Homo sapiens: one gene and its partner. The protein of the gene in region 1 purifies or fractionates together with the protein of each later gene. This does not show direct contact. Each region holds a gene or a part of one and is shown in the gene's direction. Other genes may lie near its edges.

The links.
Region 2: the proteins of LTB4R (region 1) and CYBB purify together in Homo sapiens (affinity purification with western blotting, with the first as the bait; one study listed by BioGRID). This does not show direct contact.

What each region holds. Positions count from the first base shown.
Region 1 is NC_000014.9:24,314,212-24,318,560, forward strand, and holds the end of LTB4R (leukotriene B4 receptor 1), read left to right. Parts: exon of another isoform or gene 1-809; intron 810-1,425; 5' UTR 1,426-1,440; coding exon 1,441-2,499; 3' UTR 2,500-3,825; downstream 3,826-4,349. Other genes in the region: ADCY4 (adenylate cyclase type 4), read right to left, coding at 4,205-4,349. UniProt on the Homo sapiens protein: Receptor for extracellular ATP > UTP and ADP. The activity of this receptor is mediated by G proteins which activate a phosphatidylinositol-calcium second messenger system.
Region 2 is NC_000023.11:37,778,486-37,782,905, forward strand, and holds the start of CYBB (NADPH oxidase 2), read left to right. Parts: upstream 1-1,573; 5' UTR 1,574-1,592; coding exon 1,593-1,637; intron 1,638-3,602; coding exon 3,603-3,698; intron 3,699-4,420. UniProt on the Homo sapiens protein: Catalytic subunit of the phagocyte NADPH oxidase complex that mediates the transfer of electrons from cytosolic NADPH to O2 to produce the superoxide anion (O2(-)).

The sequences.
Region 1 (4,349 bases):
AGGGGAAGTAATTGGCATTCTGTGTGATACCAAGGAGACCATTTGGATTTTGGCTTCTACCAAAGAGAATGGAGAATTGGTTGACCTAAATGGAACCAGTCCCTTTAAGTAAGGGGAGGAAAGGGGGTGCTGGAAGATGGCCCTCTTCCCACCACCTAGATCATAGCTTGAACTGAAGCCAAGGACAGAGTGCTGCCCCCTTCGGCATTTACTGATGTGCCCTCTTTAAATCATGATGTTATCTAACCCAAACCCAGACCCAGGACCTAGTCACAGCTCCAACCTACACTTCCTATTAATCTTAAAACAAAGCAAAACAAAACAAAAAGATATCAGCATTGTAGCCTCCAATCTGAGCCCATTTCCCTTCTCTGGCTACCATACCTCCTTCTCCTATATGATACCATTCACTACTTTGTTCAATTATCCAGTCTAGACCTGCATCTTGAGGCCACACCCAGCCTTCTCACTCCCCACACCCCTCTTTCCTCTCTCACTGCTCCTTCCTGGTCTCTTCTCATCTGGCCCCACCTCTAAGGAGTCCTCCTGCCTTCTGGGTTGCCCTGGAAAACAGACTATCCCCCCTCCTAGTGAAGGGAGTGGGTAGGGGTTTCAGCCCCACCCTCAGGAAGATGCGTCTTCCCTGTCCTCTGCTCTGTGGTACTTCCTCTCTGGCTGATTTAGCAAACAGCACCTAGACCTGGGGCCAGGCCTTTGGCAGTGGGACAGATCCAGGGATAGGCTACACCACCCTGCCCTGACCCTGGGATTGGCATCAGCTTCCAACCAGTTCCTGCCAAAGCTTGTAAGTAAGTTTCCTGGGAGCGGCCGTGGTTGTGGTGGTGGTGGGACAGTGTGCAGCCATGAAAGAAGGTGCAAAGGAATCTCCAAAGAAAGCCTGACCAGCGTAAAAAGTTGGGAGGCTTTGTCCTTGTCACTTGTCCACTAAACTCCTCCCCTCCCTGTTATTCCTGGTTGACCCTGGGCATCTCTGGGGACAGTAGGCAGGTGATTGGGAAAGTTAATGGGATTGAGGGGCTGAGGGCCTGGCAGGGGGCAAAAAGACTGGCCTTTCAAGGGGTGCAGCATTGGTAGGAACTCTGTTTGGTTCTGGGCTTTAGGGTCTCCTAAGGGGAGGAGACTGAAAAGGTCTGGAAATGCTGCTGCTGCTGTGGTCACTGTATATTTTGCAATTGGGTCTGTGGACAGGAAGGGGCCGCATGACCCAGTTAGGAAACTAGTCTTTGTACTCAACCAGATCCCTTTAAGTTGTCAGTCTGCAGCGATGGGGGCAGTATATTTCAGGGGGACCTCTGATGCTGCTGACCCTGGAGATAGACTAGAGTTCTCAGCCTAGGTGTGTCCATGGCGTCAGGAAACCCTTGGTCCTCTACTCTCATGCGTGTGTCCGCCCTCACTCTCCAGGTCCTCCCGACGGCCATGAACACTACATCTTCTGCAGCACCCCCCTCACTAGGTGTAGAGTTCATCTCTCTGCTGGCTATCATCCTGCTGTCAGTGGCGCTGGCTGTGGGGCTTCCCGGCAACAGCTTTGTGGTGTGGAGTATCCTGAAAAGGATGCAGAAGCGCTCTGTCACTGCCCTGATGGTGCTGAACCTGGCCCTGGCCGACCTGGCCGTATTGCTCACTGCTCCCTTTTTCCTTCACTTCCTGGCCCAAGGCACCTGGAGTTTTGGACTGGCTGGTTGCCGCCTGTGTCACTATGTCTGCGGAGTCAGCATGTACGCCAGCGTCCTGCTTATCACGGCCATGAGTCTAGACCGCTCACTGGCGGTGGCCCGCCCCTTTGTGTCCCAGAAGCTACGCACCAAGGCGATGGCCCGGCGGGTGCTGGCAGGCATCTGGGTGTTGTCCTTTCTGCTGGCCACACCCGTCCTCGCGTACCGCACAGTAGTGCCCTGGAAAACGAACATGAGCCTGTGCTTCCCGCGGTACCCCAGCGAAGGGCACCGGGCCTTCCATCTAATCTTCGAGGCTGTCACGGGCTTCCTGCTGCCCTTCCTGGCTGTGGTGGCCAGCTACTCGGACATAGGGCGTCGGCTACAGGCCCGGCGCTTCCGCCGCAGCCGCCGCACCGGCCGCCTGGTGGTGCTCATCATCCTGACCTTCGCCGCCTTCTGGCTGCCCTACCACGTGGTGAACCTGGCTGAGGCGGGCCGCGCGCTGGCCGGCCAGGCCGCCGGGTTAGGGCTCGTGGGGAAGCGGCTGAGCCTGGCCCGCAACGTGCTCATCGCACTCGCCTTCCTGAGCAGCAGCGTGAACCCCGTGCTGTACGCGTGCGCCGGCGGCGGCCTGCTGCGCTCGGCGGGCGTGGGCTTCGTCGCCAAGCTGCTGGAGGGCACGGGCTCCGAGGCGTCCAGCACGCGCCGCGGGGGCAGCCTGGGCCAGACCGCTAGGAGCGGCCCCGCCGCTCTGGAGCCCGGCCCTTCCGAGAGCCTCACTGCCTCCAGCCCTCTCAAGTTAAACGAACTGAACTAGGCCTGGTGGAAGGAGGCGCACTTTCCTCCTGGCAGAATGCTAGCTCTGAGCCAGTTCAGTACCTGGAGGAGGAGCAGGGGCGTGGAGGGCGTGGAGGGCGTGGGAGCGTGGGAGGCGGGAGTGGAGTGGAAGAAGAGGGAGAGGTGGAGCAAAGTGAGGGCCGAGTGAGAGCGTGCTCCAGCCTGGCTCCCACAGGCAGCTTTAACCATTAAAACTGAAGTCTGAAATTTGGTCAACCTTGTGAGTGGGGTACATGTGCTGTGGGTATCGGGGTGCTCGTGGGCGCCCTGGTGGGGCCCCTCTCGGTAGTTGAGAGTCACGTCCTTTAGTTCCCCATGATTTACAATTTTGGAAGGGACACAAAGAAACATAGACTTCCCCCATCCCAGATGATTCCGAGTACATAGTCTGCAGATAATACTTAGCAAAACGCAGTCTACAGACTCCTAAAGCAGCTTGTCTAGGAAGACCACCCATGTGGGCTTATCACTCCAGGTTCTGTGACCCGGGACCTTCTGAGAAAACAGCACTGCTGTGAAATATCTTCCTTGAAGCCTGTGATAAGTCTCCTTGTTAGAATGACTCCAACTTCCTGCCAATAATCTTTGTCCTCTCCATAGGAGATGTTCTAGGGGATGCCTTCCTTCCCTCCATTTCACAAAGAGGCCAGACTTGAGGACTAAGTCATTAGATCTTATCCCTTAGAATTTTGCATATCAGCATCTGCTAACCTCCACAACACACCCTGGCACAGGGTGGGGCTGAGGGCCCCAGGAAACAAAGATTCCCAAAAGTGAGAGGGATGAGTCATTATTTCCTAGAGATGACTGTTGTTTTAGAGAACCTTGGTCCAACTCTGTTCTGACAAGGTTTTAGGAAGATGGCAACAACAGTGGCAGCAGTGTACTTTTTGGATCTTTCTCATAAAAAAACAAAAGAGCAAGTAAGAGAGGGAAACCAAATATCCACATGCAACATCCGCAACAAATCTAGTATGTCAAGGTTTGACATACTCCCATGGACCCCAAAGTATGAGCCAGTGAGAATGAGTCATCAATATCTCAAGACCCATATACCAGCATCTGTGCAGAAGGATGCAGAAGGAAGCAAAGGGATGTTGGATGGACCTAAGAAGAGGAGATCCCCAAGCTGTCTACAGATCCTTACTGGAAGGTATGGTGCACCAATTTGAGAACAGCAGCTGAAACTGGGAGGGACCTAACGGAGTATTTCCCAGTCCTCTCGCCCATTCTGTATGGTGAGCACATAATAGGTACTTATTTAGTGTTTGTCGAATTAATAAAGTTCAAATGACATTTCCCTGGAGATTCTTCCGGTATTTTTGAGTAGGGGGCAGGAAAGGGCAAATTTTTGTTTTGAGTCATGTGGCTAAATTCTTTATGCTTCCAAGGTGTACAAAATACTATAATCAAGTTGGCAGAGAGGCTGAGGGAGTTCTCTTCCTGAGCTTGTGAAAAAAATCACTCCCTTTCAAAATGCTTAGTCTCACATGCATGCATGTGTGCAGGCATGTGCACACACATTCACACACACACTCGCACTAAAATTGGCCTGGGAAGAAGAAGAATTCCCACTGAAGGGCAATGAGAAGGTGATCCCCAGCTATATCAGCAGCTTCAGACATCAATGGGCTCCAGACACCCCAGAGTCTCTTTATTGAGGTTCTTAGAAGGCGAGTGCAATCTCAGCCTAGGGTAGCTGAAGGAGGTCCAGTTCGTGTCAAGTCTGTGTTCAGGAAGTAGGTGCAGAGCTGCCCTTTGCCTTTCACCTTGATGACACCCCGGCTGTAGCAGGTGTAGCCCAGGGACTGTAGGGCCCATGCTGTCTCC
Region 2 (4,420 bases), on another chromosome or scaffold:
AGCTGTACAAAAATGTTTTAATATCCATATCTAGAAGCTTTATTCTGTTTTTAAATTTTTTATTTTTATATTTTACCTTTAAAACATTTTTGTTAAAAGCTAAGACACAAACATACACATTAGCCTAGGCCCACACAAAGTCAGGATCATTAATATCACTGTCTTCCACCTCCACATTTTGCCCCACTGGACAGTCTTCAAGGGCACTAACATGCATGAAGCTGTCATCTATGACAGCAATGCATTCTTCTGGAATACCTTCTGAAGGACCTGCCTGAGATTCTTTTACAGTTAACTTTTTTATAAGTAGGAGTATACTCTAAAATAATGATTAAAAGTATAGTCTAGTAAATAAATGAACCAGTAACATAGTCATCTATTTTTACTATCAAGTACTATGTAATGTACATAATTGTATGTGCTATACTTTTACAACTGGCAGCTCAGTAGGTTTGTTTACACCAGCATTGCCACAAACACATGAGTAATGTGTTATGCTACAATGTCACTAGATGGTAGGAATTTTTCAGCACACACACACAAGTATATATATTATATATTATATTATATATTATATATATATGTATATATATATATATATATATAGAGAGAGAGAGAGAGAGAGAGAGAGAGAGAGATGGAGTCTTGCTCTGTCGCCCAGGCTGGGGTGCAATGACACAATCTCGGCTCACTGCAACCTGACTCCCAGGTTCAAGTGATTCTCCTGCCTCAGCCTCCTGAGTAGCTGGGACTACAGGTGCCCACCACCATGCCCAGCTAATTTTTGTATTTTTAGTAGAGACGGGGTTTCACCATGTTGGCCAGATTGGTCCCAAACTCCTGACCTCAAGTGATCCACCCCACTCAGCCTCTCAAAGTGCTGGGATTACAGGCGTGAGCCACCGTGCCTGGCCAACACCATTATAATCTTATGGGACCACTGTCATACATGTGGTTCATCATTGGCCAAAGCATCTGTATTTATATATGTATGTTTCAAATTATATATATATATATATATATATATATATATATATATATGATAGCTATACATGAACATACACACACACATATATAGACATATATAGCACATAAAATTGGCACATATTAAGCATTTTGTAAATATCAACCATTACAATTGTTACTACTTTTCTCAGCAAGGCTATGAATGCTGTTCCAGCCTGTCAAAATCACACCTGTTTAATGTGTTTTACCCAGCACGAAGTCATGTCTAGTTGAGTGGCTTAAAAATTGTGATCAAATAGCTGGTTAGTTAAAAAGTTATTTCACTGTGTAAAATACATCCCTTAAAATGCACTGTTATTTATCTCTTAGTTGTAGAAATTGGTTTCATTTTCCACTATGTTTAATTGTGACTGGATCATTATAGACCCTTTTTTTGTAGTTGTTGAGGTTTAAAGATTTAAGTTTGTTATGGATGCAAGCTTTTCAGTTGACCAATGATTATTAGCCAATTTCTGATAAAAGAAAAGGAAACCGATTGCCCCAGGGCTGCTGTTTTCATTTCCTCATTGGAAGAAGAAGCATAGTATAGAAGAAAGGCAAACACAACACATTCAACCTCTGCCACCATGGGGAACTGGGCTGTGAATGAGGGGCTCTCCATTTTTGTCATTGTAAGTACCAACAAGAGATAAGTTATAAATTCTCTGACTTCTCGGGGTTATCTTGGAACTAAAATAGACCAAAGCTTTTTTGTTCATTTGAGGAATTGTGTTGAAACTGATTTACCATGTGAACCTATATCTATCTGTAAACAGACTGAGTCCATTCTTCCAAATTCCTTAATGGAAAGAACATATCTGGGGGCTCACTTCTAGCTTACTTCTGAATTCCTAGGAGGAATAAATTAGCCAGCATTTCGCAGAAGGAGTAGAAAATATTTCATGCTAATGATCTCTGATTCTGAGTTGTTTAGTAATGTTTACTCAGACGCACATGTCTATGTGTTTATACTACTTTAAAAATGACAAATTGAAATTTTATACCATTTTCTAAATAAAAAATATAAGATTGACTCATGTATGGGAAGTAGGCCTTTATTTCAGTAATTACACTAAATATAATAAAACTTCTCAAATTTATTTTCAAAAACAAGTACCTTCTTTTTTCAGAGATCTAAACTTGAGTTATTTATAAGATTTATAAAAATTCAAAAGAACAGAATTGAAATAAGTCATCTAGATTCATAAATATGTAGTATGTATATTTATATATAATTGTATATATATATAAATCAATATAGTCTGGAGAAACTATGTAAGTAAAGATATAGCTAATTTACAAGTGGACAGAATGATTTCTGTACTTTTTAAAACAAAGAAAATCAACTGTTCTCTTAAAATGGTGTTATCAGCAAAGCAATAATGGACAAATTGGGTAGATAGAAATACGATTTTTAAATAGCCTTTCTAAATAACCAATAGAAGCATTACACAGATGTTAAAAAGTACAATTATGAATGGAATATGAATGGAGCTTTTGTAAAAATTTATCATGAAAAATAATGAGTCTTTGAGTTTTAAATATAGAAAGCAATTAGTGGCACAAATAAAAACAACAAATATTTTGTTATAAAAAATGTTTACGCCAAACCAACATTCTACTGCAACAGAGAATTCTTCCGAGTATTCGAAGCTGTAAACTTAACTTCTTATCACCATTTTTAAGGGCAAATAATTTCTATAGAAAGTAAGTTCAAATTAAACTTTTAGCTCTCGCCACAATTTTTCCCAGGAAATGACCTCCTTCTAAATTATATACTCATGCACTTGAAAGTGAAAACACAGCTTGGAAAGTCAGAGTAAAGAAAGAATGACAAGATCAGGAAATTGGGAAGTTGCTTTAGCACTTTTTTCTTTGTAAAGAGAGAATATTATCAAGTGTCTAGAGCATATAATAGCTTCAAAGCATAGTTGAGAAAAGATCACTATGGAGCTGAAGGTAGAGAACTGGGTAGTGTGACCACTTGATCCAGTCAGTGCTTAGGATAAAATGAACTGTCATGATCTAGAAAGCTGTTTTTGTTGTAAATCCCAAGCCCCTCACTATGCTCAATATTCTCTCCTTGAAGCATTAAGTAAAACTAATCAAGGAAAATGGAAGGCTTGGCATTTTAGCTGATGAGAATTCACTAGCTGGATTACTGTGTGGTAGAGGGAGGTGATTAGCACCTGTGAGAACAGAACGCAGTGTCATACTGGTGGAGGGAAAGCAATAGTAATATGTTCCCTTCCTTTCTCATTTTAAGTGGAGTGGCCTGCTATCAGCTACCTATCCAAGGTTAAGCAAAAGAGAGGGGAAAAAAAGGGAGTGGGGTAATGTAAGACTGATAATTTGGTATACTGGCCAAATCATAAAACAATCATGGGGAACAACACAGGGTGGAGAGGTTTTAATTATAGACAAGTGTAGTGACACTGTTGAGGAAAGAGCTGGCTCTAAGCTGGTTATATCCAGCTTTGTCACTACCTTTGTCAAAGTTGGACTTGGGGAAGTCCTGACCCTTATCTGACTCCAGTCTTGTGTGGAATCTACTGTGGAAATGCGGAAACTTCATGCAATTATTTCTGTTTGTGCAGCTGGTTTGGCTGGGGTTGAACGTCTTCCTCTTTGTCTGGTATTACCGGGTTTATGATATTCCACCTAAGTTCTTTTACACAAGAAAACTTCTTGGGGTAAGTATAAATTCCATCCCATGCAATATTGGCTGGTTCACATTTCTCATCAGACATTCTTGTTCATCTTCCTGTTAGCATTTTAAATACATATTCTGACCAACCCAAACAGTACCATTAGCCTCACTCCCTCCATTGCAACTTCCTGGGCAACAGTCACTTAAAGCCTTCCAGTCTGGGACCAACAAAAGTGGGGCAGAGGGCCCCAGTGGCATCCTTCCCCAACCAAGAACCATGTGCCATTGTTTAGCTTAAAGGAGAAATCTAATACTCACTCTGAAATGGAAGGGCAGGTTGGAGCAATCCATCCAGGAGTGACACATGTGGGACAAGTGGGACTTTCCATATTTTCTAAGTCACCTAATTCCTAGTACTTTTTTGCATGAAGAGCTCTGCTCCTAATCACATGTTATGAAATGATCTTCAGAAAATAAATCTCTCTCTACATATAAAGACTCGAGGAACTTGCTCAAGGGCCACATCTGTTGACTAGGACAGTAGAGTGAAGGCCCTTCAGTTTCCTTGGGTCCTTTAGTATTCTGAGTTTCCTTGAACTGTCAGGCCTCTTGCCTCCAGAAGACATCTGTTACATCATGCTGAAACTATGAATTAATTGCTTAATATTAATTATTATAAGTATTATAAATCATAAATAAATAATTTTAGCATATAATTATGCTAGATCATTATAATTGTTGTTAGCTTATTCACATTGATGCTTT